Linked DNA regions of Homo sapiens. The protein of the gene in region 1 interacts with the protein of each later gene in a pairwise test. Each region holds a gene or a part of one and is shown in the gene's direction. Other genes may lie near its edges. The genes, in order: THAP10 and PTS.

Evidence for each region.
Region 2: the proteins of THAP10 (region 1) and PTS interact in binary tests that used the Homo sapiens proteins (3 or more experiments, as listed by UniProt).

Annotation. Positions count from the first base shown.
Region 1 is NC_000015.10:70,885,834-70,889,433, reverse strand, and holds part of THAP10 (THAP domain-containing protein 10), read left to right. Parts: intron 1-3,600.
Region 2 is NC_000011.10:112,228,961-112,233,027, forward strand, and holds part of PTS (6-pyruvoyl tetrahydrobiopterin synthase), read left to right. Parts: intron 1-1,247; coding exon 1,248-1,270; intron 1,271-1,665; coding exon 1,666-1,722; intron 1,723-4,067. UniProt on the Homo sapiens protein: Involved in the biosynthesis of tetrahydrobiopterin, an essential cofactor of aromatic amino acid hydroxylases. Catalyzes the transformation of 7,8-dihydroneopterin triphosphate into 6-pyruvoyl tetrahydropterin.

The DNA of each region.
Region 1 (3,600 bases):
GTCCCTATATCACCCCATATCCAGCCCCTCCCCTCTCCTCAAAGGTAACCAAGTTTGCTTTTTTTTGGGGGGGGGATTTCATATAAATCAAATCATACTGTAGCCATTTTCTGTGTCTGGCTTCTTTTGTTCAACATTACATTTTTGAGATTCATCCATATTGTTGCATAGAACAGTAGTTCATTTTCATTATTATGTAGTATTCCATTGTATGAATATACCAAAATTTGTCTGTCTATTGTTGAACATTTGGGTTTTTACCCATTGGGGCTATCATAAGTGATACTACCATAAACTCTTGTATATGTGTTTTGGTCCACGTGTGCACACATTTCTGAGGATATATACCTAGAATTGCTGGGTCATAGTATTACATTAAACTTCAGTAGATAATACCAAATAGTTTTCTAAAATACTTGTACCAATTTACACTTCTACCACAAGTTTGATAGTTTCCATTGTTCCACATTCTTGCCTATACGTGGGATTTCTAGTCTTTCACATCTGAGTCCATTTGCAGAGTGCGTAGTAATGTTTTTGCTTTTCATCCCCCGATTACTGATGAAATTAGTAAGGAAACACCTTTTCAAATATTAATTGGATATTTAGGTAGCCTTCAGTGACATGCCCTTTTAAATCTAGCCCATTTTTCTGTTGGATTGTCTGTCTTTTCTTGTTGATTTAGAATTTTTAATAGATTCTACCTGGAAGTCCTTTTTCAGTTAAATGTTTTTATCTTCTCCCACTATGGGTTGCCTCTTGGTTCTTAATAATGTCTTTTGATGTACTGAAGTTCTTAATTCTGATGTAGTCCAAATTACCAATAATTTTCCTTATTCTTAATACTTAAAACATTTTACTATGCTGTTTGTAATAAACTTTGTTGTTTTTACTTTTTATATTTAGATCTAATTCAGAATTGATTTTTGTGTTTGGTGTGAGGTAGGATTTAAGTTTCATTTTCCCCAACATTGATACCCATTTGACTCAGCATCTTTTATTGAAACTACTAGCATTTCTTCTTGGCCTTGCAATGTCAACTTTGTCATAAATCAAGTGCCCTTTATATGCATAGGTCTGTTTCCACATACTTTATTCTGTTTCACTTATCTGTTTGCCTAAGCAAAAGTATCACAGTGTCTTATATAGCTTTATTAAGAATATTCAATTGATTAATACCTCTTACCTTGTTCATGTTTGTGGATATTTTGACTATGTTGGGCTCTTTAGATTTCTAGATACATTTCAGAATTGATTTGTCAATTTTCACAAGTTACTCACGAGGATTTTGATTATGACTCCATGGAATTCATAAATGAATATGGGAATAAATGGCATATTGACAATATTGACTCTTCTAATCCATGAACATATATCTCCATTTATTTGGGTTTTTAAATTTTTCTTAGAAGTGTTTTGTGGCATTTGATGTAGAGGTCTTACATATCTTTCATTAGATTTATTCACAGCTATTTGATTTTGCTACTATAAATGGTATTTTAAATTTTATAATCTATAAGTGCATATTGATAAATTAATTTTTGTTGAACTTGTATCCAAAAACCTTGTTAAACTCACTTATTAATTTCAATAGTTTATAAATTCTCTTGAATTTTATACATGTACAAAAATATCATCTGAGAAAAGCGTTTGATATTCGTGTTTTTATTTCGTATTCTTCCTGTTGCACTGGCTTGAATGTCCAGTACAGTGTGGGAACAGAAGAGGTGAGGGGAATCCTTTTCTCATTCCTAATTTCAGAGGGAAAGCCTTTAATATTTCCCCATTTGATTATGATTTTTACTATAGTTTTTTATAGCTCTCTTTGTAATAAAAAGAAATGTTCCCCTTTATTTCTAGTTTAGATTATAAATAATGGTGAATTTTATCAAATGGTTGTTCTGAATCTATTAAGGATAACATTTTTATTATGTTAATATAGTAAATTATATTGATTGGTTTTAAAATGTAGAGTCAAACTTGCATGGCTAAAATAAACTCAATTTGGTCAAAGTGTTTTATTCCTTTCTCATATTGCTTAATAAAATATTAGCTAAAATAAAATATTTAGGATTTTTGTATCTGTGTGCACGAGTGAAACTGTTCTACAGTTTTTTTCTTTCTTGGAATGCCTTTCTCAGGTTTGGTATGAAGATTATGCCAACAGATTTGGAATTGTTCCTTCTTTTTTCATTCTCTGGAAATGTTTATATAAAATGGCATATATCCATTAATAAATTTGGTATTAATATTTGGTAGAACTCATTGATAAGACAGGAGTTTTCCTTTTGGAAAGGTTTTTTATGATGGATTCAATTTCTTTGTTATAAGGTTATTCAGAGTTCTTTTGTTTATCCATTTTGATAAATAGTATTTTGTTTATCCATTTTGATTAATAGTATTTTTTAATTTGTCTGTTCCATCTAAATTTTTAAATGTATTGACACAAAACCTTCATGATAATCTTGTATTTGAAAAAAATTCTGTTTGAGCTGAGGTAATTTTTGCTTTTTCATTTTTTCTTGATCAGCTTCACCAGATGGTTTATCGATTTTTTTTTTTCTTTTTTAGACAGAGGCTCACTCTGTCACACAGGCTGGAGTGCAGTGGCGCAATCTCAGCTCACTACAACCTCTGCCACCCGGGTTCAAGCGATTCTCCTGTCTCAGCCTCCCGAGTAGCTGGGATTACAGGTGCCTGCCACCGCACCCAGCTAATTTTTGTATTTTTAGTAGTGATGGGGTTTCACCATCTTGGCCAGGCTGGTCTTGAACTCCTGACCTCGTGACCCACCTGCCTTAGCCTCCCAAAGTGCTGGGATTACAGGCGTGAGCCACCGCACCCCACCGGTTTATCAATTTTTATTAGTCTTTCCAAAGAACAAACTTTGCCTTGTTGATCTCTCTAGAATTTTTTTTTCATTTATTTCACTTATTCATTATTCCCTTCCTCTGCTTTTTAAAATTTTGTCCACTGCTCTGTCTTTAACTTCTTAAGAAGTTAAATTATATCATTGATTTTCAGAATTTTTATGGTGAATGTTAAATGGTGCAGCTAAGTTTCACAAGCTTATTTCACAAATGTAGAATTCAGTAAAGTGGTGTTGATAGAGGAAAATCTGGGTCCTGAGAGGGGGCTATGTTAGAGATATTTTGTGGAATACCTTTTGCATGATATTAATAATTCTAACCTAAATTAAGCCCAATTAATTTTCCTATCCTAATATATGCATTAAAGATTATAAGTCCCCACCTAACATGGCTTTACTGAATCTTACAAGTTTTAGGTATGCAGTATTTTTATTATTTAGTATAAAATATCTAATTTCCATTGTGATTTTATCTTTTATTCGTGGGTTAATTAGAAGTATATTTTTTAATTCCCGTATCTCTGGGCATTTTTTAGTTAAATTTTTGCAATAGATTTCTAGGTCAATTACACTACTGCCAGAGAAAATGCAATATATGGACTTAATTTTTTGAAATTTGTTGAAACTTGTAACATGCTCAAAATAGTTTTTTAAATGTTCCATATGTACTTGAGATGAATGTGCGTACTGCACTTGGATAGTGTTCCACTGATGTCTATTAATCATGTTTA
Region 2 (4,067 bases), on another chromosome or scaffold:
GCCAAGGCTAATGTTAAAATTAGATTTTATTCTTTGAGTAAATAATGACTGACAAAAGGGGAATGTTGCCTAGGAATGTAATGTATGGCAGAAAAATAGGTTTGGTCTAAAGCTTTGCCAGCAGTGTTCGAAGAAAGTAGGTAATTTGTTCAAGGATAAGAGACTTGATTCTTTGAGGTACAGCCTGCCTTAAAAAACAGGTACATAAGTCGTAGAGTATAAAACAGTATGTGGTGTGGTGGCATAAAAAAAAACAGACAAGGTGTCAGGAGATTAGGATTACTGGTTTAGCTACAGCCTCTTCCTTAATCTATGGTATCTCAGTCTCAGTGTACTCACTTACATGTAATATCTAATGGTATTTGTACAGAACTAAAATACATAAATTCATAAAAGTTATTAATGTGTAAAGCACTGATAAAGTTTTTTTTTGTTGTTGTTGTTTTTTTTTTTGAGATGGAGTTCCACTCTTTTTGCCCAGGCTGGAATGGTGTGATCTCCCGTCACTACAACCTCCACCTCCCAGGTTCGAGCGATTCTCCAGCCTCAGCCTCCCGAGTAGCTGAGATTACAGGCGCCCGCCACTATGCCTGGCTAATTTTTGTATTTTTAGTAGAGATGGGGTTTCACCATGTTGGCCAGGCTGCTCTCAAACTCCAGACCTCAGGTGATCTGCCCGCCTCGGCCTCCCGAAGTGCTGGGATTACAGGCTTGAGCCACCACGCCTGGCCAAGATTTTTCAAATGCTTCTCACAAGCACTTTTTAATTTACAAAGCATTACTTTAGACTTTGTATACATTCATGTGAGTAAGGGGACAAGAATTTAAGGCCCAGTAGTATTGCTTGTTCAGAAAGGTACTGCTCAGTATTGGACCAGCTTGCTGTGTAGCTGGACACCTGAAAGACATTTTCTACTTCTACAGGCAGAGACTGAGCAGCATCTTGATGCTCCCTAGTGCATTAACATAAGCAGAATTTACACCCTTTTCAGCCTTGGCCGAGTGCCTCTGCTTAGCCAACATTCCTACTAAGCTCCTTTGTCTCGATTGTGTCTTGCTTTGGTTGCTAAAAAAAAAATCTTAACTAAAATAACAGATGTTTTGGGGTAAATATTTAAGTATAGCTTTTGGGGACAGATCTAATAATTTATGTTGCCAACTTGTGCTTGTATGTTGCTAACTTGTGCTTGGATGTTGATCTGTTGAAAGTCATGCTGTTTTTTTTGTATTTTGTTTTCTTTCCATAGTTGTGGTGACAGTACATGGAGAGGTATGTGCAGAAAATATTTGTGTGGTTTTTGCAGATTGCTGGGCTCTCTTTCAGCCAGTGTGGTGGATTCTGTGTTGAAAACTGTTCCAGTCAGTATTGCTTCATTGTTGGCCCTTGTATATGTGTGTGTGGTGAGCTGCCGCCATTCCAGGCCTCTCCTCTACCAAAGTGTTGTCTTTAATATGCTGTATGTGGACAGGTAGAAGGGCTATACAATGAAAAGGATGCTTGAAGTACATGGTGCTTCCATGCTGAGGTCAATGATTATCTCTGGGATGAAGGCAAATGTGCAAATGTGGGCACAGTCTCTGCACATTGTACTGCCTTTAATAATTTGCCAGCCGTTTAATATGGAGAGCCTATCACAGTAATATTCACCTTTGTTTATTCTTTAGATTGACCCTGCTACGGGAATGGTTATGAATCTGGCTGATCTCAAAAAATATATGGAGGTAATGGCATGTTGGGTGCTTATTATGTGCTATTCCCTAACTGTAATATTTGGTGGCCCCCTATCTACCTCCCCAACCAGTTATCTCCTAAGGTTCCATGACTTTGTGAATAGAACTGGATGTGGGTGTTGGGGAATAGTTGGAAGAACTGCTCGCATGGCCTCTAAAGGTGTTTTGGTGACTTAACGGAAATTAGTCACAGTTGTGTTACAGCGATGGGAGGAAATATAACATGCTCACCTTGTATTCCTTGTTGGAATATCCTGATTTCCTTCAGTTAACAAATTCTCCATTTCTTTTAAGACATAGCTTTCTCCTTGAGACTTACTGTCTTTCTTTTTTTTTTTTTTTTTAAATAGGCACAGAACCAATGCAAACTTTTCTTTTTGGTAGAGGTAGGGGTCTCACTATGTTGTTCAGGCTGGTCTCAGACACCTCCTGCCTTGACCTCCCAAAGTGCTGGAATTACAGGCATGAGCTACTGCTCCTGGCCTTCTCCTTGGAGCTTTCTCTTCCCTCTCTGAATATTCCTTGTACCTTTGATCATAGATTTAGACACCACACTGTGTTGTTCATTCTAGCTTTATTATAAACTCACCAGAGCAGTACCTCATAGAGATAACACACAAGGTGTTCAATGAAGAACTTAACTGATTGTGTCATTATAGAATTCTTGCACTGTAAGAGACTTTGGAGATTATTCAGACCAACTTCTTCAACCCATAGATTAAGATTGAGAGATGCTGAACAGTTAACTGACTTGCCCCAGGTCATATGGCTAGTCATTTGCAAAGCTGGGAGTAGATTTCTTTCCTTCCAGCTGTTTTATTATGCTGTCATTTCACTTGCAGCTTAGGTTTGTTCTGAGATTTGACATTTGCTTGATTAAAATGATGTTATTAGTAATGATTACTTCTTTCACATTACTTATTCATATATTCAACAAATTTCTCTACTTCGCATCAGTTTTTGAGCTAAGTGTACAAAGATGAATGAGATGTAGCCCACAGAGTGTATACATTACTTTTTCTAGGAGGTGAAGAATATTATTAAATAACTGTTGATTTAATAAATGAGTAGAAGAATGAGTGAATGAAGAAACAGCACTATGCTCAAAATACTTTAGGAAAGTTATACAGATAGGGCCAGCATGCATTTATGGGGCAGGGGTTGGGGGGCAGGCGGAGAGAGAGAGAGAGGGAGACAGAGACAGGAGAAGAGGAGGGGGAGGGGAGGACAGGGGAGGAGAGGGGAGGGGAAAGAAAGAAAAAGAAAAAGAGAAAAGAAAAGAAAAGAAAGAAAAGAGACAAGACAGCAACATAAAAGGCCTCAACATATGACTAAATACTGGAGGAGGGCTTCTCTATGCTGTTTTCTGCTTTTGTATGCCTGAAGGACACCACACACTTTCATCAGTAAAAGTGGCTTATCATGGCATGTAGAGTAAAGTTAGAGCTCTACCGTGGGGGGAGGATTGCTTGAGTCCAGGAGTTCAAGGCTGCAGTGAGCTATGATTATGCCACTTGCACTCCAGCCTGGATGACAGAGACCCTGTCTCTAAAAACAAAACAAAAGAAAACAAAAAGCCCTGCATAAGAGGCTTTAATGGAGAAATTGGGACTGGAACTGGGATTGAAGATGAAGCAAGGATGCCCGTTTTCTTGTTATTCATGTGGAACATCCCTTCATTGGATATATTTCAATAACTGTTTGATCTAGGACTTACTCTTTTTGTATGATTCTAGTTTTTCTCAAGAAATGATTGCTGTTACTGTTATTAATGTACCCTTCTTCAAACTACGTCCTATGGAAAATTACATTTTTTTTTCACAGATGCTTAGATTTTTTGCAATAGCTAAAAGCAAAAACCTAGAAAGAATGAGGCAATTTAATCCTTGCTGATGATGAGGAAAAACATTATGTTAATATACACGAGCATTAGGGAGTAATAGTCTTTACATATATATATTTTTCCTTCTATGAGCCCAAGATCATTCTTAAATTATTCCTCATAGCAAAAATTTAGAACTACTTACATAATTTCAGTCTAGGTCTGCTTTATAAAATGTAGTAGTCACTGGATCTTTGTCCTTATGATATTGTGGCATTGTTCCGTAGGTGTGACAGTGTTATGGAAAAATATTTGTGCTAACTGTTTGGACAGGATTCACAAAGTGTTAAACTGAATTCTGAATTACAATGGCTTGTGTTGCGAGAAAGCTCCAGGAATTCTCTGCTTTTTGGTTTCTCACCTCTTTTTATTCAGTAACAAGGATTCCTAATCATTACCGACAGCTGGGCCTGACTTTATTTTACAACTTGAAATTTTGTAAAGTTGCCTTGTA